Linked DNA regions of Homo sapiens. The protein of the gene in region 2 interacts with the protein of the main gene of each other region in a pairwise test. Each region holds a gene or a part of one and is shown on either strand. Other genes may lie near its edges. The genes, in order: MAGEA2, NEK7, EGFL8, FUT2, TNMD, MYNN and KLRC1.

Region 1 (4,089 bases), on a different chromosome or scaffold from region 2:
TGCTTGGAACTCGGACTCCAGGTCGGGAAACATTCTTGGCCCCTCCTCTTCTTGGTTGCTGGAGCCCTCATCGGATTGTCTCCAAAGAGTGTAGTTGATGGTAGTCGAGAAGCTGGAGGCTCCCTGAGGACTGTGGGGAGGACTCGGTGAGTCGGCAGCAGGCACCTCCCCCAGGGTAACTTCCACTAGAGTAGAAGAGGAAGAAGCGGTCTGCTGCTCCTCAGTAGCAGGAGCCTGCGCACCCACCAGGCCCAGGGCCTCTCCTCGGGCCTCAAGGCCTTCTTCAGGCTTGCAGTGCTGACTCCTCTGCTCAAGAGGCATGATGACTCTGGTCAGGGCAGCAGGCAGGAGTGCGGGCAGGAGCTGGGCAATGAAGACCCACAGGCCTGGGGAGAGAAGGAGCGTGTGTGAGGCCTTAGGTGAGAACTGAACTGAACCTTGGAGGCTCTGACAAAGGCTTACTTACAGATCTTCTCCTTCAATGCTCCTCCAGTGCCTCGGGTCCTACTTGTCAGCCTGTCCCCCTCAGAACCTGAAGGAGGAAGTGGGAGGGCACCTCAGGGTACAGCCGGCCAGCACATGCTCAGGCTGCAGGACTGAGAATAGGGAGGGTGAGGCCAGGCCCTCTGGAGTCCCATTTGTTCTGGGCGGGTGGGGCCCTTGGTGTGCATTCCAGGCAAACCTTCAGTGTTGGCACTGTCTGCGTCCCCTCTGCTCTGTGACCTGAGGACACTGACTCAGACCAAGGCCTCACTGCCTGGTTCCTGGAGCTCCTGATTCCTGGGAGAGGAATGCACGGGCCTTCAGTGTGCAGACTGCAAGCACAGCCACGGATTCCCAGAAGTCTCAGCAGGGTTGGCCAGACTCCGTGAGGTCCCCACTCTACTTGGGTGGAGGGTCCCCTCTGTGCTCACTCAGGGCCCTCACCTTTCTCCTTGTAGGGCCTAATCCCACCCTTTTGCTGGCTTGAGAATCTCTCATGTCAAGAACTCACATCCCTGATATGGTACAGAAGGAGATGAGGGGACCCACATCTGGCCATACGTGACCAGGTCCTCCCGCGAAGGACAACGAGAGATGTCCAAATTCATTGGAGTCCAGGTGTCCTGGGTGACGAGTCCGCTTGGTCCTCACGTCCACTCCTGGCAGGGCCTGAGACCCTCCCTCTACTGACCTGACTCCAGCCCCTTCAGACCAAGGCCTCCCCTTCCCTGACATCAAAGATCCCAGGATAATGGAGGGACTTCAGCTGACAGCCCTGCCCAGGGTCTCTGAAGTAACCGCAGGGGCAGGGCAGATTTCTATGGGGCCCCCTGTCTGCATTCTGGCCCAGGAGTACCCTCAATCCTACCTCAGGCTCTCCACCTGGATGCTTGGCAGATCCTAGAACCACTGCATCTGTCGACCAGATGGGGGCCCCTGTGTTGACCTGAGTCACCTTCTGAAAACAAGGTCATCAACTCCCTGAGATCTGGAAACAGAAGTGAGGAGGGGCCACATCCTGTTACCCCCACGTGCGTTGTCCAGGGCTGACCCCTTTGGTTCTAGGGTGAACGTTATGATGGCCTCCTGTGGGTTACTCATCTTTACTCCTGCCAGGGACTGCCCTTTCTCAACCCCCAACCCCCTGAAATGAGCAGACAGCTCCTCTTTACACCAACACCTTATCTCCCTGAGGGTTCCCCAACCTCCTGCCTGTGGTACAAATGAGATTGTCACTTAGGGCCATCCCTGATCAGGTTCCCCCAGAGCTAAGAACAAGGGACGGCCAGACTCTGTGGCATCCCTTCTTTCTGGGCCGGGGGTATCCCCAGTCCTCATGAAGGGGGCACACCTTGGGTCCGGCAGATCCTGGGATTCCTCCCTCTGCTGACCTGAAGTCCCAGCCCTCAGACCACAGCCCTCAACTCTCTGTCACCCTGAAGGTGCAATGAGCACGGGGCACATTCGGCCACTGTGCCCAGGATCCCCCAGCCCAAGGTTGCCACTGATCTGGACTCCAAGGTCCCCTCAGTCCTCCCTCTTCTTCCTCCCCTTGACTCCTCGCAGGGCTGGGCCCCAACCCCCTGCTGAAGTGGGTCTGCATCCCTAGGATTCCCGCGGCTGAATGAAAAGGTGGCTCAGTTTGAGACAGGGGTACAGTGGGCCCCCTGTCCTGGCATGCTGGGTCCCCTAAGGACTCCACTGTCTTCCAGGAGGGCCTGGGCCCTTCCTCTGCATCCCAAAGGCCATACTCACGAGACCCAACCCCTTCCCTCCCTTAGCCGTACATGTGAACGTCAGGATCCGCGTGCTTGGCCGCCATTCCCGGAGCTTCCGTGGGTTGATTGCAGGGGCAAAGCCCGGATTCTGCCAGGATGGTGGTGGGGGAGGAGATGGGAATGGGGTTTGGGGGTGGGGTTGGTGTTTGAGGGATGGGGGTGGGGTTGGTGTTGGGGGATGGGATTGGTAGTGAGGGTAGGGGGTGGGTTGCCCTCAGTCCCCTCTTGGGGTCCTGACCTTGATTCCTGGCTGAGTCTGGGCCCTGAGCACTTCTAACCAGCCCTGCCCTGGTCACACAAAGCTCTTACGCCAGAGTTCCCTGCGGTTAAAGCGGCGGGGGGTGGCGGGGTGAGGTGGTGGCGACTCAGCCTGAGAAGTCTTCCCCTGCAGGGTGGTCCAGGCCCGGCAGCAGAGGCAGCGCTGGATTATTGGGGGCCCTCTGTCTGGGGTGAGGCCCGCCTCAGTCCTCCCTCGGCGTCTTACCTTGCCTCCTCACGGAGCCTGCGCCTGCTTCCCTCCGCCGACGTCAGGCCGTTGCTCAGGGCGAGAATCTCGCTGTCCTCTGACCTCCAATGCGCAAGTCAGTGGCGTCACATCCGGGCCCGTGACTTCCCTGGGTTCACGGCAAGGGTGGAACCGGATTCTGCCCGGATGGGGATCTGGATGGGGGGGTGGGGGTAAGCATGAAGATGGTGTTGGTGTAGGGGTAGGGATTGGGACGGGGATCCTGAGGCTGTAGATCCTGGTGGGGTCGGGGGAGTTGGGGGTGGGAGGGGCCTTTGGTCATCCCTCAAGGTCCTGACTTGGATGCCAGACTGAGCCTGGACCGCCATCCTCTGCCGATTGTGTTTGCTCCCCTCAGACCAAGTCTCTGACTCTGAGTCGGCCCGAAGTGGCATTGGGGGGAGGGGTGTGCTCGGGGTGAGATCATTGCCAGTGTGTACCAGGGCTGACAAGAGGGGCTGAGCTGGATTCTGTGGTCCCACTATGTGGGTGAGGGTGGATCCTCAGTCCTCACTCAGGAGGGTCCTCTTCCTCACTCCTGGCTGTTTGATGAAGGAATGGGTGGGAGATGCTCTGTTTCTGTCACCTCTGAGCATCTGCGCATCTGCGCATCTGCACCCCTTGTAGAGAATGGCTGCGGGTGCCAGGCCAGGTGCTCCCTGCAGGGCAGGAGCTCCCGCGATGATAGTGACCTCTGGGAGAAGACGCACACCTTCCCACGGGGGCTCCTCCCCAGCCAGAGCTACACTTGGCAAACCTTTGGTCCTAAATGATTTATTCTCTGAATTGAAGAAATACGGTTTACATATCTTCTAAGTATATATGTAGGTAGCAATATATATATTTATTTCTATGAACTAACACCTACCCTTAGTATGCATGATTCACTCTGATATCCTAGTCTACTTCCATTCCAGTCTTTGTGTTCTGTTGAAAGAATTTTTTTAAAAAACATAATTCCTCTCCCACTCTGTTGGTTTCAGGTTGTTATTAGCAGAACTCTGGAGCCATGCTGCCTTAACAAACCCAATTTTCCTGGTGGACACTGCTATTACCTAGGGCTCTTGGCATCGTGTTTTCAGGGGCTGCCTCAGATTGTGCAATGAAGTGAAGTGGAAAATTCAAAACTTTTATTCTACCCATTCTTTCATCTGCCGTCTAGGCAGGCTACAAACCTCCCCAACATCTCTGCCGCTAACCCCCTCCAACAGACACTGCAAGTGTCACACACAAGTACCAGCTCAACACAGTCTCCAGTCTCACTCTGGGCTTTCCCTGTTTTGTTGTGTAGATTTTCTTGCTGATACTGGTGTTTTACTTTCT
Region 2 (3,500 bases):
CTTCCAAATGAGATTTTTATGCAGAAAAACACGACCCAAAGGATGAACAACTTTAAAAAAGACATTATCGAATTTAAATTTATTTTAAGACAAGGTTCTAACTTGACATTTAAAGTGCAAGCAAGTACTGTGGTAAGCAGTGTTACAAACTAAAAATTCAATTTAAAATGTTCGCATCCTGTTCAAAACCTTCTAAATCTTTGAACCACAGCAGCAAGAATACAACACGGAGTGCCAGGCTGCCCCAAAGTCAGTCACCCTTTTCTACATGTGCTAATAAGTTTGATTTTGGAAGGACAATGTGTACATTCCCCAGACAGGCAGAGTGTGTGTGAAACACGCTAGTCCATGCTGTGCTACTCAGTGAGCGTCAGTGGGGACAGGACAAGCTGAAAATGGCTCTCATCTGTCTTCTGTGCTCCAGACAGAGCTTTAACTCCTTCAGAGCCTTGATGAGAAGGGGATGGGATTGGAAATCAAAACTGGAAAGTAGCTCAACACATTTTTATCTTGCCTATGTTTTACATAAAACGTGCACACAACTATATAGAAGTACCTTAGGAAGAGTTGTTTCACATGACGAGAAAAAAGTTAAAAACAATCTGAATGCCCCTAATCATATAAAACACTCTGAGAGGAAATTTCTAAAAGAACCACAATAATAATAATAATAATAATAATAATAATAATAGTGGTTTTTGTTTTAAATGCAAGGACACTTTAAGATCTTACCTTAAAAATACACTGTATATATAAACTATAGTCTCTCCGTGTTTGCAAAACCTTAAGTAAATGTACATATATTCATTATCATATTCTAGGCGTTCATTATAGTCCTTTTTCTCAGTACTGCAGAGTGTTAAAAAAAAAAAAAATCTGAATGTCCCCTAAGGAGTTAAACAGGAATAGTATATTTTCATGCATCTCCTGCTTTGACAGATGAAAAATGTCAACTGTCCTGTTTTTATTTTCAAGCTTTTGCACTATTCATCTGGTTCATTAGTGCATCTCGATGCTGCCCCTGACAGCTGCTCGCCCTCTCCTCCCAGCAGCTGAATTTTTCAGGCTAATTTGATCCTCCACACTGAGACGATCGCTAGAATGATTGACTTACTCCCTGACCTCCAGGGTCTGACTTTCCTGATTAGTATTCTGGGGGTGTCGGAGGGACGAAAGCCCACTGTCTGTCTTCGGGGCTGGTGGCAGCTCTCTTTTTTTTTGAACTGTAAGCCACCAACCTACAACCCTGTAAGGATGCAATTGCTGCGCTGAACAATAAAGGAAATGTGTAAAACCTACTTTTCCATGTAAAGGTCCGTGTAGCAAAAGCACAGCATCTTGATTTTAATTAGTAAAGTCTACTTTGTTGCATATCAATTAAAACTGTACTGCTAGTTTTTTTTTTTTTTTGAGGTTTCAGGAATATTTGAAAGTCTAATTTTCTGAGTTTAAAATACATTTTCAAAAAAGGCTTCCTACGTCTTCATTGTTAATAGTAATTTTTTAGTGGGTACAATACAAAATACGTGATGTTATGACCAATTTTTAAAAGCCAAACTGTTAGCTATTTCTATTAACAGTACATTGAAACACAACTGAAAGGAAATAGAACATAAATTTAAATTAAAGCTTTAGAAAAATTCTAGTTCTTCTAAAAGATTTGCATGGAGAAATCAAGAAAATGCGTTGAGATGAAAACTAACATTAGCATGATAATACTTTAACTCAAAATCATCCACAATACATATAACTCATGGATGTAGAAATGTCCAAAGATGTTATTTTTATTTTTGTGGCATTTTAAGTCCATACAAAAATGGGACACCGTCTCTCAAAGGCAAATTCAAAATGTGATAAATTATTTCAGTTTTGACATGAGTATGCTAAATCTAAAAGAATTATGCAAACTTCCTCTCAAAAACCACTTACTACCTCAACAGAACTTTTTCTTTTTTATTGCTAAATTTAATCTAGTTATTGGAAACCAATTTGCTGTTTACTTTTAGGGATTTGAAGAGAATATGTTGCTTTGATAATATTAGACTATGGCCTAAAGGAATCTAAGGTTAACTAAACAAATATAAAATATTTTAAATGTACAGAGTGACTAACTTTTAAACATTATAGTAACAATATAAACAATCCAGTTCTTTTTAGGATTGTACCAAATTATTAACAAAATATAACACAGTGAGCGTAATTTCTTGTAATCTCGTGCACATATAAAAACATGTTTTGTTACATTACTGACTCATAATTTTTCATAACAAAAATTATCCAAAGTATGAGTTTATTTAAGAATATTTAAAAATCCTTTCATTTTAAGTAGTTGTTAGTCACTTTAGTAGGAAGGACAAAACAAATAATTTCAGGTTCCTTAAATTAAGGAAATTTGAATCTGCAATGAATAAAATAATAAAAGATCATGACATACATTTTTAAAGAGTCAAAAAACACCTCCTAATGCTCTACTTCCAAGTAATGGTGGTACAATTAAAATAGATGATTTCATCATATATTTCATTTAATTCTGGAGGACAAGAGACAGGAAATATATATAGTAGGAAATGCATTGGTTTCTATTTATCCTCTTTAGACTTCTCTCATATACACAGAGATATGAAAATGATTCCTACACAGGGATATGAAAATGCTTCCATGTATTACATTTCCTCACTTTATTAAAACCTACTTAGATATAGACTAATTTTTAATTAACAGCTTTGACTCGAAGCCTATATTCCTAGGAAAATTATCATTCAATTAAAAAAACAAAATTACAGAAGTCACTAGCTTGAGATACTTTTATACCAACACAGATGTAAAATGTGTTACTAACATGCTTTCTTTTATCCACCCAAATTATTACAGTGCAACATTTCTAGAGGACCTACCTACATGATTCCATCTTCCTTTGATAAATGATCACCAGTAGAACAAAAGAGAGAGTATTTCACTGAGCTTTACCAATACAAATTGTTACTCATGGAAACTAAATTGATAACCTAGAAGAACTATCTGTTTGCATACTATCCTTAATGCTAAATTACACCTGTGTAAAAGTGAAATAAAATATTGATAAAAATATTTACTATACTTTCATATATTAAATCCAATCCATTATGCCACTCCTGTAATGCATGGATCAAGATTTACAGATGTTCAAACGTATATTTTTACAAATGCAAGATATAGAGAAAGGCGTTATATTAACATAAAAGTTAATGCTTTAAAAATAAACTTCTCATCAAAAGAACACAATTTAAAAATATATTAGATGTGTAGGAATGTATAGTTATTAAATTCCATTATACAAAGTTATTAACCCAACGAAAATTCTTCACAATTAAAAAGGTGATTCTTAAACATCCAGAAAAAAGTAAGTATATACTATAAGGATAGAGGAAATATACTAAGTAAAACTGCATCAATATTTGGAATTTATCAACATTACCTACCTCATATAGTAGACAGCCAAGAGACCAGATGTCAGATTTGAA
Region 3 (3,950 bases), on a different chromosome or scaffold from region 2:
GAATCTCCTGCTTCAGAGCGCGCTCATCTTTTTCCGCCTCCCGAACTAGGGACAAAGGAGACCAAGAGTGTGACCACTACCCGAGCCCGGACGCCCGTCCCGAGTCCCTCGGGTGGCCCGTACTCCTGCCCACTCACCGGCCACGCTGAGTATGCTGGCACTGGTTGGGGGCTCTGGGGACCCCTCCATGCAGGTGCGCCCGTCCACGCCTAGCACTAGGTCATGGGGGCAGCCGCAGGTGAAGCTGCCTGCCGTATTAAAACAATGGTGCGAGCAGAGGGTGATGCTGGTCCTACATTCATCCACGTCTAGTTACCGAAAAAAGGAAGGGGCTGAGAGAGGGGGCGGGGGCAAGCACCTGGGTAGGTGGGGAGGACAAGCTGACTCACCCACATGACAGTGCTTCCCTCCCCAGCCGGGGGCGCACTCGCACTGGTCAGGCCTAACGCAGACGCCTCCGTTCAGGCAAGGCTTGGCGCAGATGGCTGAGGACAGAGGAAGTGGGGTTCAGACTCAAACCGACGACCCAGCTCCCCAGCTCCGTGGGGCGCGCCTCCCGCAAGGCCCGGAAGACCCAGCCTCACCTTCACAGGTGAGCGCCCCCGGGTGCCGCTTCTTCCAGCCCTGGCAGCACACTGCATGGGTCTGCTGAACCTCCCGCCTCACCTCCCGCCACATAACGCGGTACATGGTCCTGGAACACAGCGCCCGGCTCAGGACCCTGAGTACGGGTCCTAGTTGGGGTTCTTGGGGTCCCATCTCCCCATCCCTCACCTGTAAGTGCTGCAGATGCGCCTCCCAGCGCACAAGGTCAGGTAGGGCTTGTACACTGGTTGGCTGTAGGACTCGTTGTAGTGGAGCGGGACCACCAGTGTCTGCTTGGAGCAGACTCCCTGACTGCGTCCATGCCAGAGGATGAGGTGGGAGAGATTGAGTAGGCCAGGCCCTGGGGAGCCAGGAGTCCCACTTCCCTCAAGAGGCTACTGAGGCCCCCCGCTCTCCCTCCAGATGACAGCCTCTCACCCCCATTCTAAACTTACAGTTATGTTTTGCCTCCTGTGAAGCCCCACCCCCAGCAGAAGGCTCCTGAGAAGAGCTCACCCCGGGCCCTACCCCCTCTGTTGTCACCTCTCTCTGAGGGATCCACCCTTGGCCCCCTCGCCTGGTATCAGTAGCAGGAGGAAGGAGAATCCGCCTAAGAGAGTGCACAGCTCAGCCCTGGACCCCATGATTCGCTTTGACGCTGGACCCTACAGGCTGCAGGCAAGAAAAGGTTAATGGATGCCCGTCCCCTCTCCTATTAATTTCTCCAGCACTAGTCCCTCCAAGGGCACTCTGCAGGTACCCTCTAAGGGAGTCAGGACATTCACTTTTACATACTAGCCACCAGGATTGCCTACACCTGTGTGTACAACCCAACACTATCCTGTCCTTAGCATATCATGATCCTTTCAGCATCATAAAAGCTCACACCCCAGCACACTCCCTCCACCTCCCCTCTAACCTACTTACTTCTAATCCCCTCTGCACAACCTGGAGGGACACACAGTCAACCCTCCCCTTATGACCCTCCTGTCTTTTTTTGGGTTTTTTTTTGTTTTTGTTTTTGAGAAGGAGTTTCGCTCTTACTACCCAGGCTGGAATGCAATGGCATGTTCTTGCCTCACCGCACGACCTCCGCCCCCCAGGTTCAAGTGATTCTCCTGCCTCAGCCTCCCAAATAGCTGGGATTACAGGCATGCGCCACCACGCCTGGCTAATTTTGTTTTGTTTTGTTTTGTAGGGTGTGAGGGTATATAGCTAGGGTTTTTTTTTTTTGGTTTTTTTTTTGTTGTTGTTTTTTGAGACGGAGTCTCGCTGTCACCCTGGCTGGAGTGCAGTGGTGCGATCTCGGCTTGCTGCAAGCTCCGCCTCCCGGGTTCATGCCATTCTCCTGCCTCAGCCTCCCGAGTAGCTGGGACTACAGGCGCCTGCCACCACGCCCGGCTAATTTTGTTTTGTATTTTTAGTAGAGACGGGGTTTCTCCATGTTGGTCAGGCTGGTCTCGAACTCCCGACTTCAGGTGATCCGCCTGCCTTGGCCTCCCAAAGTGCTGGGATTACAGGTGTGAGCCACCATGCCTGGCCAACCCTCCTGTCTTTAACATGCCCTCTTATAACTTCATACCTTCAAAACCCTAGCTGGTTGGGCGCGGTGGCTCACACCTGTAATCCCAGCACTTTGGGAGGCTGAGGTGGGTGGATCATGAGGTCAGGAGTTCGAGACCAGCCTGGCCAAGATGGTGAAACCCCATCTCTACTAAAAAATACAAAAAATTAGCCAGGCGCAGTGGTGGACGCCTGTAATCCCAGCTACTCGGGAAGCTGAGGCAGGAGAATCCCTTGAACCCTGGAGGCAGAGGTTGCAGTGAACCAAGATCATGCCACTGCACTCTAGCCTGGGCGACAGAGCAAGACTCCGTCTCAAAAAAACAAACAAAACAAACAAACAAAAAAAACCCCTAGCTATATACCTTCACACCGTACACACAAACCAAGCACCTGGAAACTCCACACCTTTCACACACTGCTACTCCCCTCATATACCCACACCGTCACATAACGCCCTAAATGCACATCCCTTGCTCCAACAAAACACCCCGCAACTCATGCCCACCCTAAGGCTCTGAGTAAACCCCACTCTTTCCCCATTTGAAATTCTCTCCCCACTTGCCTTCCTCTCTCTCTCCATTCCCACCTGGCTTCTTTCTCCTGGGAGGCTTCAAGCAGACCAGCCTCAGCAGAAGCAGCTCAGACTGGTGGGTGGGCCTGGCAGGCTAAGAAGGAGAGGAGGGGCTGGGCCAGAGAGTCCTCCCATTCCTGCCCCCTCCCACAAGCCTCCTCCTTAGCTCCAGCAGGGTCAGCTCAGTAGGGTCAAGTCCCACTACCCTCATCCCCACCCCAGCAAAGGGCTCCCTAGAAGTATCTTTCCAACCCTCTGAGGCCCCTATTTCTGGACTCCCCAGATCAGAAGCTATGAGCTCTGTAACACCACCAGTACCCCCTTGAACCCAAAACAGACTAGGGGAGAGTTAGGGGGCAGGGAGAGAACCAGCTGCAGGGAACAAAGCAGTTCAGGTTATGGGAGAAAAAGCAAGATCAGCTGAGGAAAGCTAGAAGGGCAAGTCGTCACAAAGGGGCAGGGGGGCAGCCCAGGGCACCAAGGGGAAAACTGCCCCCCTCTCTTCATGACATTTGTTAGGGCTTAGGGGGAACAGAATTGAGTCAGCCACCACCCCCCATGCCAGAACAGACAGGGCCCTATTGTCTCAGCCAAAATTCCTTCTTTCAAGGAAGAGGAGGCTCATTGTCCAGCCCTACACCCAGCTCTGGCCCACAAAGCTCAAAAGCGGCACAACGAATGCCCACCCTGACCCTCTGCCCCCTCGTCTAGCCTGGGGGTGGCAGGCGCATTCCACCCATGAGGCTGAGGCCCAAACCACTGGAGCCCTGAGCTTAACCCCCCAGTCTTGGGGACTGGGAGAGGAAGAGAATTGTCTTCAGCAGGAAAGAACCCGCAGAGAACCAGGAACCCACAAAGAATGGGCATTGAGAGAGAGCGGAAACACCAAGGGGGTCCCCACCCTAGACCAGGCATCTGGGCACCCAGGCCTCAGGCTCCACCCCCACCCTCCTTGGGGAGCCAGGTCCCCTCCACCTGGAAATGAGCCAAGTCACACTGAGGAAATGGAACTTTATTTCCATAAATACAGGGATAACACCTATTCAAAGGTAGTTAAAAGAGGGCCTGGGGCCTCAAAGAAACTAGGCTCTCCCAGGGGGGTACTCCAACACTGATCATAGGGACTGGGGGATCCCCAAACCTGAGATGGGCCTCATAGGCCACAGATATTCCCCAACACTGACACTTCAAGAACGGAACTGTCCCCATAGGGGAGCCTCAGAACCCC
Region 4 (4,081 bases), on a different chromosome or scaffold from region 2:
GAACTTGTCTCTATTTTAGAGAAAATTAGGCCAGGCGCAGTGGCTCACGCCTGTAATTCCAGCACTTTGGGAGGCCAAGCGGGGGCGGATCACCTGAGGTCAGGAGTTTGAAAGCAGCCTGACCAACATGGAGAAACCCCGTCGCTACTAAAAATACAAAAATTAGCCAGGCGTGGTGGCACATGCCTGTAATCACAGCTACTCAGGAGGCTGAGGCAGGAGAACCACTTGAACCTGGGAGATGGAGGTTGTGGTGAGCTGCGATTGTGCCATTACACTACAGCTGCACTCCAGCCTGGGCGACAGAGTCAGGCTCTATCTTAAAAAAAAAGAAAAAAGAAAAGCAGAATGTTCTACACGGATGTCCCTGCCTCCTTGGTAGCTCCCTACCTCCTTACCCAGGAAGGAGGAAGGTGGCTGCTGAGTGGCCCAGAGCAGGAAGCTGGGCACTGACCTTGACTGGAGCCTGGAAGGAGAGAAGGAAGAGGTGGGGAGGCCTCACAGAGCAAGCTGCGCTATGAGATTGTGAATTTTTGAGGTTTGGCGAGATGCCCTGCACGGCATGATCAGGAACCTTTTATGTGCTGTGTGACTTTAACCCAGGGCTTTTACCTCTCTGTGTTTCATTGTCCTTGTCTGTCCATCAACAGGGGGTTGTGGGGAGGGATAAAAACAACACCTCCCCAGAGGTTTCAGTGAGCTGAGATCACACCATTGCACTCCAGCCTGCACAACACAGTGAGACTCCGTCTCAAAAAAAAAAAAAAAAAAAAAAAAGAGCCAGTGCAGTGGCTCATGCCTGTAATCCCAGCACTTTGGTAGGCTGAGGCGGGTGGATCACCTGAGGTCAGGAGTTCGAGACCAGCCTGACTAATATGGTGAAACCCCATTTCTACTAAATACAAAAAATTAGCCAGGCATGGTGGCTCATGACTGTAATCTCAGCTACTTGGGAGGCTGAGGAAGGAGAATCGCTTGAACCTGGGAGGCGGAGGTTGCAGTGAGCCGAGATTGTACCATTGCATGCCAGCCTGGGCAACAAGAGCAAAAATCCATCTCAAAAAGATACAACAACAACAACAAACCACACCTCCCTTAGGGCTGCGTGGGCACAAAGGGAAATGCTGTATTACATGGGCTGTCCCTGGTATTCAGAGCAGAATTTGTGCCCCAAACTCACACTTATGTCAGGCTTGAACCAAGCACCACTCCCATTCTGCCTGAAGGCATTATTTTTTTTGAATTGCTTTTTTTGTAGGGATGGTGGGGAGGGGGTCTTGCTATGTGGCCCACACTGATCTCAAACTCCTGGCCTCAGGAGGTCCTCTGTTCTCCTTCCTCAGCCTCCCAAAGTGCTGGGATTACAGGCATGAGACACCACACCTGGTCTATCTTACTGAGATTTTTTTTTTTTTTTTTTTTTTTGAGACGGAGTTTTGCTCTTGTTCCCCAGGCTGGAGTGCAATGGCACAATCTCGGCTCACCACAACCTCCGCCTCCCGGGTTCAAACGATTCTCCTGCCTCAGCCTCCCGAGTAGCTGGGATTACAGGCATGCACCACCACGCCTGGCTAATTTTGTATTTTTAGTAGAGACGGGGTTTCTCCATGTTGGCCAGACTGGTCTCGAACTCCTGACCTCAAGTGATCCGCCTGTCTCGGCCTCCCAAAGTGCTGGGATTACAGGCGTCAGCCACCACGTCCAGCCCCGTCCACGTCTTTCTATTGCGGCCCGGCTTCCTCCTCTCCCCTCTGTCCCCTACACCCAGCGCCGGCCCTGCCCCTTCCCAGCTCGCAGCCCCTTCAGGGCTCCCTATGCCTCTTAAGACACAATCCCAGTCTCTCGCCGGCCCCGCACACCCCTCCGGCTTTGTCACCAGCTGTTCCCGTGAAATAACCCAGCTCTCCGCTCACCCGGGGCCCCGTCCTGTCCCCCAGCTCTGAAAGCCTTTCTCTACCCCAACCGCCCCGTGCCCCGGGCAGCTCAGCACATCCGGCTCAGTCGCACCCCACTGCCTCGAGCTCGCTGTCTTCCTGCACCTCCCCGGGATTCCCGGATTCCCGGCATTATCACTTCCACCCTGGGGAGGAGAAGGGAGCTTCAGACAATAACGTAGGGCCATCACTTGGAAACCCCACCTTTATTCTCCGACCCAGAACAGAAGCGGTGATTCAGAGCGGGATTAGGGAGTGCAGGAGGGACGGAGCCGCCCTCCCTGGGCGACGGCAGGGCTCGGAGGTGAGACCAGCAGTTTGGGTTCCATGAAGCCTCTGAGGAGCCCCAGGGTGGAGGCAGGAAAGTCGGGTCACCACCAGCTGTGCGCGAGCCATCTGCACCATTACTGCCAGGGTGGTTCATAGAAACTGCTGAGGGGAAGGAGACAAGGAAGGACCTGGTGGCCCGGGGTGGAGAAGGGGAGGGAGCTGGTGGTTGGAGCTCTAGAAACAGATCCACCTGGAAGGAAGTGGGGAGGGAGCTAAGGAGGGCGGCTGGCTGGGGAGGGGGGTCCTGGCTGCCGAGGGAGGGACCCTCCTCTCCTGGAGGTCCTGAGTTGGGGGTGCCTCCCAGAGGGCACCAGGGACCCACGAGGGCACACAGGTCCACGTCCCAAATCCCTGCTCTCCGCCTGGGCGTGTGTGCAGAGGTGTGCGTGTTGTAGGGTGGGAGAGGAGCCCCCTCACCTTCTCTCACCTGGTCCTGCTGAAGGAAACCGGGACAGAGTGGTTGGGCAGGCACCTCAGTGTTCCCTCTGGGTCTCTCTTCACTCAGGGCCAAAGAAACCCTTCCAGCATCGGTGACTGGCAAACCCCGCCCAGGAGCTACAGGGCTTTCCAGAGCAGGTGTGGCTGGGCTGCGGGAGGGAGGTGAGCCCGTAGCCCCTCCTCCCTCCCCATTGCCGGCCACAAAGTCCATCTTGTTATCTACCCTTAGCTCCTCCACCTGCACCAGGCACCCCAAGCCTGGCCATAAGGGTGGGGGAGAGAGGCAGGACAAGGTCGCATCCCCCATCCGGGTCCCCGAGGGTCTTCCTTGGGGAACTGTTGTGATGCCCCAACAGAAAGGGGCCCCCACTCTGCTCCGCTCCTCCAGGCAGCCAGGAAGGCCTCCAGGAAGGCAGCATGGAGGCGGGGGACAGAGTCCTGCTAGGCCAGGCTCTCGCTGACTCTGAGTCCCCTCAGAGTCTTATATTTATTTATTAATTAATTATTAGTAGTATTACTTTTTGAGAGAGTTTTGCTCTTGTTGCCCAGGCTGGAGTGCAATGGCGTGATCTCAGCTCACTGCAACCGCCGCCTCACAAGTTCAAGGGATTCTCCTGCCTCAGCTTCCCAAAGTGCTGGGATTACAGACGTGAGCCACCTCGCCCTGCCTATTTCAAAAAAATTTTTAAATACAAATGGGCCCGGTGTGGTGACTCACACCTGTAATTCTAGCACTTTGGGAGGCCGAGGCAGGCGGATCAACTGAGGTCAGGAGTCAGAGACCAGCCTGGCCAACAAGGTGAAACCCCGTCCTTATAAGAATACAGAAATTAGCCATGGCCCAGCACAGTGGCTCATGCCTGTAATCCCAGCACTTTGGGAGGCCGAGGCAGGTGGATCACCTGAGGTCAGGAGTTTGAGACCAGTCTGGCCAACATGGTGAAACCCTGTCTCTACTAAAAATGCAAAAATCAGTGGGGCGTGGTGGCATGCACCTGTAATCCCAGCTACTTGGGAGGCTGAGGCAGGAGAATCGCTTGAACTTGGGAGGCGGAGGTTGCAGTAAACTGAGATTACACCATTGCACTCCAGCCTGGGAAACAAGAGCAAAACTCTGTCTCAAAAAAAAAAAAGATGGATGAGGAATTTTACTGAGAGAAGAGGCAGGCACCACCAGAGCTCCCAGCAGTCCTAACAGGAGGAAAGAGAAACCAGCAGCCACTCCCCAGCTTCAGCTAAGCAGCAGGAGGCTACCTACCAGCTACGGAGCTCCCTTCAAACAAACAAACAAAAAAATCAGATCAAGCTTCCCACTCTAACCACCAGTTTGCAGAAAACAGGAGGACAAAGTTCCCAGTGAAACGACACCATGAGGCAGC
Region 5 (4,286 bases), on a different chromosome or scaffold from region 2:
TGATAGGCGTACCCATTGGAAACATAGATGGTCTCTTGAGATCTTTGTCTGGGACCTGAAGGTAGTAGTGGACTAAGTAAAGCATCCTCATTTCCAGCTGATTTCTTAGTTTTCAATGAACCAAACCTGGTCTTATGAAGGCCATGACTTAAATATCAAAGACAATGAATCATAACTCCCCACTGGAATGGAAAACCAACAATATTTGTTCATGGTAGAGAAACTTGCCCTAGGGGACACCTGTTGTCTTTATCTGGATTACTTCATAATAGCTTTGTTCATTTCTGAGAGTCCCTTTGCTGAAAATGACATCCCAAAATGGATTACTTCACAAGAGGTTTGATTTTTGATAAACTTTATTCAGCAGCATATCCCACCTCTTCTGTGCATGCACTGACCAAGTTTTATTTTGGTTTGAGGTATCATAGGATTGCTCCTTATAATCATTAAAAACAGAACTAGAATGAGATGTAAAGATGATATAATAGGGAAAGAGAGGAGACCATGAAGCTGCAAGTGAGTTTGACACTTTGCAATAAAAAGGCAAGGTCTCCACCTAGTCGTTTATAGCTGCGTTGAGGCAAATAGCACTGTAAATTTATAAAAACACATATACTCTTTTGGAATAGCATTTGCAGTACCAATGACAACAATAAAACAAGAAAGGCCATTTGGCCCCTTATTTAGGCAAGCATCTAAGGGTGGTCAAAAGGACTAGCTATCCACCATGCCCAGTTAAGTACATTATGGCTGTGGAGAACAAAGGATTTATGGCCCTTTAACTCATGGATAATTTTCAAGAGGATCCAAGGTTCAACTTGTGGGGTGACATATCACCTTGGGAATTAGCTAAGTGGTACCAGAATTGTATTGGAATGCATTTTGGCTCTCTTATTAATTTGCTGTTTCCTTCCTGATCTCGATTGCTTTACCCACCCTGCCAGCCTGAACACAGGTGGCTTCTCTAGAAGGACATTTGAACGGTAAGTAGTTCAGAAGCAAGGAGCAGTAAGGGGAGGAGGAGTAGGGGATAGGGCTAACTATAGGCATTGGGTGATGCCTGAAATCTTTTCTGGAACAAAGTATAAATAAAAAGGCAAACAAAGTAGGCTGGCTTGCTCTCCCTCCTACTTAAACCTGATAAGATATCCTTTGGGACTAAATGAAAGTGGGTATGACAGCAGAGGTGGAGAACCCAAGGGTGGTTATGCTTTATACCTCTGTTATCTTTCAGACACTTAGCCAGCTTATTTTCTGCTTTTCCTGCTCTGCCTCTCTCTCCCCACTGACCCATATTTTTTTCTCTCTGCTCCTATTGCTCCTTTGGCTCCTAACGGTCCATGCCAACCCATTTTCTTGTATCATCCTCCTTCCTGGATTTGTGCTTTTTTCTCCCTACATCTGTTACCAAATAGAAATGAGCATCTTATGACAACCAATTAACAACAGTAATAACAATAACTTCAGCAGCAATCCACACACCAACAGAAAAACATGGCAAAGCCAGAAAACTATCTTCACAACTTGTAGTTTGTATATTTGTTGATTATCTTTCAAATGGAAATTGTGAGCATGAAGGGACTATGGTTTTATTTGGGACTATGGTTTTATTTATTTATTTTATATCTAAACTTGCCCATTGCCTATGAGCCCAGGAATAACAATAACACTAAGGTACAGAAATATAAACTACAGTGGCTAGCCAAGCTTCACCAAATGACCCCAGTATCAGAAGCTTTCTGAGTTATCTGTGATTAATGACTTGGTGTCGCATGCTTCTACCTTGTGGCATTGCTATCTCAGTGGGACAGTGATGATTGCAGCTGGCAAGGAGCTGAAAAGCTCTAGTTTCTTTTTAAAGTCATAAATAAATGTGAAGTCAGGTATGAGAATTGCTCCTCCTGAAAAGCAGCTTGCTGCCTGTTCTCACTGCAGATGCATTAAGTCAGAAACATAATCCCTGAAAATCCTTTGCTGCCACTTTGGGTGGTTTCTCCTTATGTGGTGGTCTAATTACTTTTCCATCAGTTTCTGCCCAGATAATTGAAAGAAAGATTAAAAGTATTTTTTCTTAAGGTAAAAACTTTGCTCCTAGGAGGAGTCTTAACTCCTTAAATATAAGCATTATAGAAGAATGGGTAATTCTACACCCTATCATTACTAACCAAAATATAGAAGATAAATTTTTTTCCCTTACCAAAATAATTAGGCAAATGAAGGAGAGAAAAATCTTGATTCAGTTTTTCATACCACCAGAAAATAAACACAAAAGAGACTTAATGATTTTCATTTTCAGAATAATTTATATGCCTACTAATTAAATTCAATCAAACTCAGAACAGAAGCATCAGATTATGATGTGTATTTACTTACTTTTTTGGGTACCTCCGGCCAGAAGTGCTTGCTCCCCCAAAACAGGACAATTAGAGTTAGGGCCAGGATACCAAACACCAGTCCACAAATCTTAAGTGATTTACATATTTTCTTGGATTTAAAAGCTTCTGCCTAACCAAAGAACAGAGAGAATAAAACAATACACAATAAATCTCAATAAGCAAGCCATAATTCAAAGTCACCTTTGATTCCACTTTCTAATGTTCACTTTGCAATATGATAAATCTGTGAAACCATGCTTCTGCTCAAAAGGGAAAAAATATGAATCAACTTACATTTAGAATGTGACAGTCTTCACAATTCTCTGGAGGATTCTTTGCCATGGTCTCTCAGCACACAGTACTCTTTCCTTGCTTTGAGAGGACTGAGAGACCACTGCTGAGGTGGAGTTGCAAGTGAGTCGGCTAACAGATGCCAGAGGAGAAGCTGAATTTATATGGCTCAAATATGTCATACCAGAGCCTGAGGGAGCCCAGGGGACTCCTGTGCTGCGATTTGTTACATAGATATACCCATATATGTATATAACTTCTGTGCACAGAATTCCATCCAGAATGGCAAAGACAGAAGGTTATAATGAAAACTATTGTCCTGGGGGTTGGGTTGGAAGGGGACCAAGCCTAGAACACATTGAAATGATTTTTCACTATGAACTTAAAATATCAGTGGCAATACATGCTGCACACTCCAGAAATAAGCAAACAAAACAAAGAAGGGAATGAAGTCCTAATTTCGATTCCATTTGGTTCAACAAATATTTATTGCAGGGATATTAAATGTCAGGCACTGTGCTTGGTGTTTGAGATTCAGAAATGAATAAGATATTGCCTCCTTCACTAAGTTAAAGCTCTTTAAATGGTGCTATCAATATGTACTTAACTAATTATAATGAAAACAGGATAAAATAAAGACTAATTCTAAGCTCTCTCTCTTCATCTTCTGTCTCTGATTTTTCTCCTTTCTTGGGTCCTCTTCCTCAGTCTGCTTTTTAATGTTCACATGCCTTATGGTTCTCTTCTTGATGATCATTCTCACTTTACACAGACTTCGTAGATGATATCATTCATTCCTACAGTTGAAAATATCACCTACATATCAGTGATTTCCACATCTGTACCTGTAACCCAGTTATATCTTTTAATTTCAAGGCCATTTGAACATCTCCACCTGGATATACCTCAGGAATCTCAAACTCAACATGTTCTATATCAAAGTCTTCTTTCAACACCTTCTCCTAACCTACTTTTTCCCCTCATATTCCCAACCTTAGTTGGTGGCTATATTAGTTTGCTAGGGCTGCCATAACAAAATACCACAGACTGAGTAGCTTAAATGGCAGAAATTTATATTCTTACTGCTCTGGAGGCTAGAAGTCCAAGATCAAGGTGTTATCAGGGTTGGCTTCTTCTGAGTCCTCTCTCCTTGGCTTGTAGATGACCATCTCCATATTCACATGACATTCTCCCTCTATGTATGCCTGTATCCTAATCTCCTTTCATTATAAGAACATCAGTTATATTGGATAAGGTCCCATTCATATGACTTCACTTAACCTTAATTACCTCTTTAAAAACCCTATCACCAAATACAGTCAAATATAGAAATACTGGGGGCTAGGGCATCAACATATGAATTTTGAGGGAACATAACTTAGCTTATAATAGTGGAATTGTCACGCACCCAGTCTTTCAAACCAAAATCTGAGGTTTGTCTTTCAAACCAAAAATGTGAGGTTTGTCTTTCAAACCAAAAATCTGAGGTTTTGTCTCTTTTTCACATTCCCTTTATCCAATCAATCACTAGATCCTATCTATTCCAATCAATCACTAGATCCTATCTATTCTAAATTTTTATATCTTTGAAAGCTGTTCTTTCCTATTGTGCTCACTGCT
Region 6 (3,500 bases), on a different chromosome or scaffold from region 2:
TTTCTGGAATATTATTTAAATTAAAATCTCTCTATATTGTACTTTAGAGGTATTTTCAGTGATCCAAGTAAATGAATATTAGTAATTATTGTATACTGTTCATAAGTTTTCATATATTAAAACTTTATTCCTCAAAATGTCCCTTCTAATAGAGATGATTTGGGCAAGGAATTTGATTTTTATATGATTAAGAACATGTCAATTCATAAACCCACATTTCTATTCTTGCTATCTACTATATTAATAAAGGAGAATAAAAGTATGTAGGGAAGTCTTTTAAAAAATGTACCCTAAAAAAGCAATTTGTTTCCAAACTGCTATTTTGCATCTGAATTACCTTATTTGAAAATCCCAGAATATCTGTGTAGGAAAGGTCCTAAGAAGTTTAAAAATCCATGTTCAACCCAAACCCACTCCCCAACCCTAACTATAGGAGATGACCCTTTAGGAAGCTGAAAAGGTTTTTATAAAGTCACAAAATGCATCTCAATGCAAGTTTATATAATATCAAAATTATCTCACTGATTTTAATGTGTAAGTTATATAATTTATTTCACCCACCTTGTATTATTCTAGAAAATAAGTCAGCTTTTATATTTAACAAATATGTGCAAAAATCATAAACATAGCTTATAGAAATATAAACAGATATCTAACTACAAAGTTTCCGATCTACTTCGCTAAAAGGCCCAAGTCCCCTTTTTCTTTTATTTATAACTTTATTTTAAGCAGTCTCTCCCTGTCAAACTTACCTGTATGTTTTCGAGAATGAGTGATAAGAGAACTAGAGACAGCAAATGCCTTCCCACAGGTATCACATACATAAGGCTTTTCTCCAGTATGCCTACGGACATGATAGGTCAGTGTGCTGGCTTGAGCAAATCTCTGTCCACACCTATCACAGACATATGGCTTCTCTCCACTATGCTTCCTGTTAGTAAATAAAGTTAAATAAGTAAAACAATTTGGAGGTCAGTCTATATAGCAAGAATTCATAAAGTTTTTTATAGATTTTATTTCATGTCATCTTAACAGGCCAAGACTATGTATTTAAAATCAGTAGTTGTTTCAGTGTAAACACTGCCAAAAACAAATATTTCTTATTATCAAAACATTAGTTCTGAGATCAGTTCAAAAAGTTTTTCCATGATCTTTATATGGTTGTCAGTGGGCCCCTAATACTGCAGGCAATTATTTTCATGAGTCTAGTCACTCTTTGACTTGTGAACTCTCTCCTCAAACCATCAGCATCTCCTTGCCCATTGTAACTCTCAGGTGACATCCCTGCTTCCTATTTCACTGAGAAAAATTCATATGACATGAGGGTGACAGTTCATCTGAATCCATCAATTCCAATTTGTATACTTGAGATCCTACTTAATGATATCACTTCTGCAGTTTCCCCAGTCCTACATCATCCATGTTTCTCACTCCATTGGATTATGGTATACAAATATACTGATGTCTCCCATATTAAAAAAAAACCAAAAACAAAACAAAGACCCTTGACCTTACTTGCTCCTCCATTCTCTGCTCCCCTTTACCAAAACCTTGAGACTCCAAGTGTTCTATCTACTTCCATTTCTTCTCTACTGGCCTCTACTAATGATACTTTTGTCAAGAGCACTGCTGACTTCCCACTTTACTAAATCCACGTCAGTTCTCAGTCTTCATCTCCCTATCACAGAATTTTACAATTGACCACTCCCATCTGGAATAACTTCCTTCACTTGGGATTCCAGGGCAGCCCTCTTTCCTGGTTTTCCTCCTCTACTGGCTGCTCCTTCCTAGTTACCTCTGCTGGTTCTCACCCATCTCTCAGAACTCATAAAGTTAGAGTGCCTCAGGGCCGTCTTTTGATTTCTTCTGTCCACATTCACTCTCTTGGTGACCTTAGCCAGGGTTACAGCTTTAAATACTGTCATATGCTGATGACTGCCAAACGCTAATGATTGCCAAACTGTTATCTTCAGCTCAAACCAGTCCCCTGAACTGCAGACTTAGATAACCAATTATCTATTGCACACCTCTATTCAGAAGTGTTAAGTCATCTCAAATTTAACACACACAGAACTGTACTCGTAAATTCCTGCACTTCCACTTAAACTGTTCTACCCACAAACCTTCTCTATCTCAGTTAATGGCAGCTCCATCTTTATAGGGGTTCAGGCCCAAAACCTCAGAATCATCTTTGACTCTCTTCCAGACTTCACATACAATCTGTTTGCAAATTCTATTATTTCTAACTTTAAAATATATCCAGAATCTACTACTACTTATTTCTTTCACTGCTGCCACCCTGGCCTGAACCACCATCACCCTTGCTTGGGTTTTATCTATAGATTCCTGTTTACCCTGATTCCACTCTTATAATCCTATACCAGTCAGAATGATCCTCTTAAGCTGCATTCTGGACCATTCTGATCTTACTTCTGGACGAGTCTGACCTTATTTCCTAGTAGTCCCCACCCCCTGCTTATTTCCTATCAACCACTGTGGCTTCCTTGTGGTTCCTTGAACGTGTTAACATTGTTTGGTGGAACCACAATTACAATTCTACTGTCCTGAATTCTAATATAATAGTCTATTCATAAGACTATGGTGATTAAAAGACTAAAAGATCAAACAACTCATTTGGTTTTTTACCTTGCATGAATCTTGAGATTGCTAGAAGTTGCAAACTGTAAGTTGCATACATCACATTTATAGGGTTTTTCTTCACCATGATGCATGCGACTATGGAAGACTAGCTGACATTTCTGAGCAAATCCTTTATCACACAATTCACATTTGTATGGCTTCTCACCTAAAGGAACAATAAAATTTATATTTAGAAGAAAATAGTGTTTTGGTTGCATAAGTCATATAAGATTTCATCAACAGTACTAGCTTTGTTATTAAGAAAATGTTAACTGTTGGAACTGAAAACAAATATAATCTTTTCCAGACCACTGAAAACACCAGTAGAATCAAAAGAAATTAGTGTTTCTGAATTCACGAGATAAATACATACAGCATTTTAAAAAGTACGAATCTAGGGCTGGGCTCGGTGGCTCACGCCTATAATCCCAGCACTTTGGAAGGCGGAGGCGGGCGGATCACGAGTTCAGGAGATCGAGACCATCCTGGCTAACATGGTGAAACCCAGTCTCTACTAAAAATACAAAAAAATTAGCCGGACTTGGTGGCAGGCACCTGTAATCCCAGCTACTCGGGAGGCTGAGGCAGCAGAATGGCTTGAACCCGGGAGGCGGAGCTTGCAGTGAGCCGAGATCGCACCACTGTACTCCAGCCTGGGCGACACAGTGAGACTCTGTCTCAGAAAAAAAAAAGAAAAAAGTACGAATGTAAACGTACCAATAGGTGCTCATACTTTACAACCAGGCAGAGGACATGCAAAATAAAGGTAACTGTAGAAGCTTAGGGAACACTGTATGTGTAATTCCAATGAACATGTTCAGAAGTCAACAGAGTCTAGAAGTATGTAATGAGAAGTGTTG
Region 7 (2,425 bases), on a different chromosome or scaffold from region 2:
TCAGAGTTGGAGATTTAGAAGAGAAATTAGAGGTTGTGATTCAGAAATAAATGACATGGAAGCTACATATTGGGTTTTCTGGGTACCACACCATTCTTTAACTAGATAAGCCCTCACTTTTTTATCTGATTTGGTTTTGGTGGAATAACAGTGATCCTGACCAGGTGGTGTAGACTCGTCTCTCTCTGCTACTCCCTACTAAAAACAACTATAAACTCTGGGATTAATGAAAGACAAAAGCAATGGAGAACTCTGAAAGGTGGAAAGAGAAAGATGAAATTGTCTGGGACCCTAGCATCAGGGATCAACCAAGTGTCCGAGCGAGCATGTTAAGTCCTCCACACGACAGAAGAAGGTGACCTAGGCCTGCTGTTTCCCTACACCCAACCTGGCAATAGGAGGAGGCCCAGCAAAGCTCACTCCTGTTCTGTATTGAAGGGGAGTCCCCTCCGCAACAACAGGCAAGGCTGGTACCACTGGCAAGGATGATCTACCAGGAGACTTGCTACCAATACAGCCAGAGGAAGTACTTCCTTCTCATACCAAGAGACACCAGAGTGGATGTGGGTGAGGAGGATCAGCAAAGGAACCCAATGACTACCAGTGCACCACCCAGGGTCCTCTTTGTCCCTGAGGGCATGAGACTCACTTCCCCATCCAGAGACACAGGATTGAATGGATTCTTAGTGTTCTTTGTACATACTACAGCAGTGAACAGTAATAAACGACAGATAACCGCAATAATATGGAGGAATTGCATAAATATCAGATAGGAGTGAAAAACACAGACATGAAATTCACAGTGTATGATTCCCTTTATATAAATTCAAAAGCAGGTAAACGTTATTTATAACATTAAAAGTCAAGACAGTGTTTTGGAGAGGAGTCAGGATAAGTGATGAGGGCATACACAGGGGTGGAACTACTAGAGCTGGAAACTTTTATTTCATGATCTGACTTGTATCACAGGAGTTCATTCACTTTGTGATCAATCTGCATGACCAGATCACATCATGCCCGATAAAATTAGATAGCAAAATGTATTGTGGATTGAAAGCATTTCTAGAAGCATGGTTTTCCATGAAAAGCAAAAACTGAAAATAATCAAAAGTACATTAGCAGTATATGAATTTTAAAACATTATTAAGTCAATCAATTAAATACTACATAAACTTGAAAACATATAAGCTAAATGTATATACCCACACATATGGATGATTTCTACAAATATATTATCGACCGAAAGAAGCTTTTCATAAAGTGTTTAAAACATTTACATCTTACCATTTCTTCTTCATTATCTATAGAAAGCAGACTGGAGTTCTTCGAAGTACAGGCCAGCAAACTCTCTTCCCAAGTTCTTCTTTCCTTACCAATGTAGTAACAACTGTTGGAATATGTAATCCACTCCTCAGGACAATGGCCACAATGACGTGCTAAATAAAGATATGAATTACTATCTAGACCAATATGAATTTTTAAAAATGAAAATTAGTTCACATATTTGCAAACATATAAACCTATACGTATGCAACATATCTATACATCTTCATGGGCTGGTAAATATATAGTGTCAAAATACCCAGTCACTTATACACACATGCGCAATAAAGGGTCAGCCTTTCATCTCCTAATTGTGTTCCCATATAAAGCAAACCAGCAAACAAAAATCCACTCTATACATGTCTTGAAAAATCAATGAACTAATCTGATTTTTAAGGAACAATAAATAACTTGTATCTTATCATATTATAGCAGTAAGAATTTGAACACAACAGATAAAAAGAAAGCATAGTGATTTTACTTATAGTTGATGACAAGTGAATGCCTTACTCTAATTTTATTTATGAACACTTATTGCCAAATTTTATAATTTTTCACCCAAAATTTTATTTTTGTACAGCCTAAGATCAAGAAAAAATAAACTGTACAATATTAAAACTTTAAAAATTATTATATACCTTTCTGAGTTCTTGTATTCAGGGAAGAATTGTTGTGCCTCTGTATTAATGTAGCTAGAAAAATTAAAGTAATCTTTGTAAAAAAATTAGCATCTAAATCAATCATAATAATTTTAAGTTTTTGTTTGAATTTTTTTGTATTATTTAGAGTTAGAATAATATGGAATAAAATTGATTTTAAGAAAAATTTGATAAAGTAATGGTGGTTTTTTGGAAAAGTATTTCATAGATCTAAAGAACCAAATTTCACCATCTCATATAGTTCTTATAATTCTTGATTTAACTACTTTCAAAAATTAATTTCTATTTCTCAGTAAGGTTTTTCAGACTCCTAGAACATATTTTTGAGTTATGAAATCCAAATATATACATACGATTGCATCAGAAGCGAATACTTTCAACAATTATTCTTTCATTTATTCTTTGACAAATTCAGAATAATCATTCCACATTTAGTCCAAATA

The links.
Region 1: the proteins of NEK7 (region 2) and MAGEA2 interact in binary tests that used the Homo sapiens proteins (3 or more experiments, as listed by UniProt).
Region 3: the proteins of NEK7 (region 2) and EGFL8 interact in binary tests that used the Homo sapiens proteins (3 or more experiments, as listed by UniProt).
Region 4: the proteins of NEK7 (region 2) and FUT2 interact in binary tests that used the Homo sapiens proteins (3 or more experiments, as listed by UniProt).
Region 5: the proteins of NEK7 (region 2) and TNMD interact in binary tests that used the Homo sapiens proteins (3 or more experiments, as listed by UniProt).
Region 6: the proteins of NEK7 (region 2) and MYNN interact in binary tests that used the Homo sapiens proteins (3 or more experiments, as listed by UniProt).
Region 7: the proteins of NEK7 (region 2) and KLRC1 interact in binary tests that used the Homo sapiens proteins (3 or more experiments, as listed by UniProt).

Annotation. Positions count from the first base shown.
Region 1 is NC_000023.11:152,751,043-152,755,131, forward strand, and holds the start of MAGEA2 (melanoma-associated antigen 2), read right to left. Parts: upstream 2,801-4,089; 5' UTR 2,746-2,800; exon of another isoform or gene 2,500-2,745; intron 2,350-2,499; 5' UTR 2,271-2,349; intron 1,472-2,270; 5' UTR 1,352-1,471; intron 781-1,351; exon of another isoform or gene 683-780; intron 533-682; 5' UTR 467-532; intron 387-466; 5' UTR 322-386; coding exon 1-321. UniProt on the Homo sapiens protein: Reduces p53/TP53 transactivation function through recruitment of HDAC3 to p53/TP53 transcription sites. Also represses p73/TP73 activity. Proposed to enhance ubiquitin ligase activity of RING-type zinc finger-containing E3 ubiquitin-protein ligases.
Region 2 is NC_000001.11:198,292,998-198,296,497, reverse strand, and holds part of NEK7 (serine/threonine-protein kinase Nek7), read right to left. Parts: coding exon 3,459-3,500; intron 1-3,458. UniProt on the Homo sapiens protein: Protein kinase which plays an important role in mitotic cell cycle progression. Required for microtubule nucleation activity of the centrosome, robust mitotic spindle formation and cytokinesis.
Region 3 is NC_000006.12:32,163,445-32,167,394, reverse strand, and holds the start of EGFL8 (epidermal growth factor-like protein 8 precursor), read right to left. Parts: upstream 2,801-3,950; 5' UTR 2,738-2,800; exon of another isoform or gene 2,714-2,737; intron 1,258-2,713; 5' UTR 1,230-1,257; coding exon 1,129-1,229; exon of another isoform or gene 898-1,128; coding exon 775-897; intron 695-774; coding exon 585-694; intron 486-584; coding exon 390-485; intron 309-389; coding exon 138-308; intron 46-137; coding exon 1-45.
Region 4 is NC_000019.10:48,694,690-48,698,770, reverse strand, and holds the start of FUT2 (galactoside alpha-(1,2)-fucosyltransferase 2), read right to left. Parts: upstream 2,801-4,081; 5' UTR 2,682-2,800; intron 1-2,681.
Region 5 is NC_000023.11:100,583,450-100,587,735, reverse strand, and holds the start of TNMD (tenomodulin), read right to left. Parts: upstream 2,801-4,286; 5' UTR 2,718-2,800; coding exon 2,670-2,717; intron 2,506-2,669; coding exon 2,374-2,505; intron 1-2,373. UniProt on the Homo sapiens protein: May be an angiogenesis inhibitor.
Region 6 is NC_000003.12:169,779,896-169,783,395, reverse strand, and holds part of MYNN (myoneurin), read right to left. Parts: intron 2,807-3,500; coding exon 2,647-2,806; intron 932-2,646; coding exon 753-931; intron 1-752.
Region 7 is NC_000012.12:10,447,953-10,450,377, forward strand, and holds part of KLRC1 (NKG2-A/NKG2-B type II integral membrane protein), read right to left. Parts: intron 2,016-2,425; coding exon 1,962-2,015; intron 1,437-1,961; coding exon 1,285-1,436; intron 1-1,284. UniProt on the Homo sapiens protein: Immune inhibitory receptor involved in self-nonself discrimination.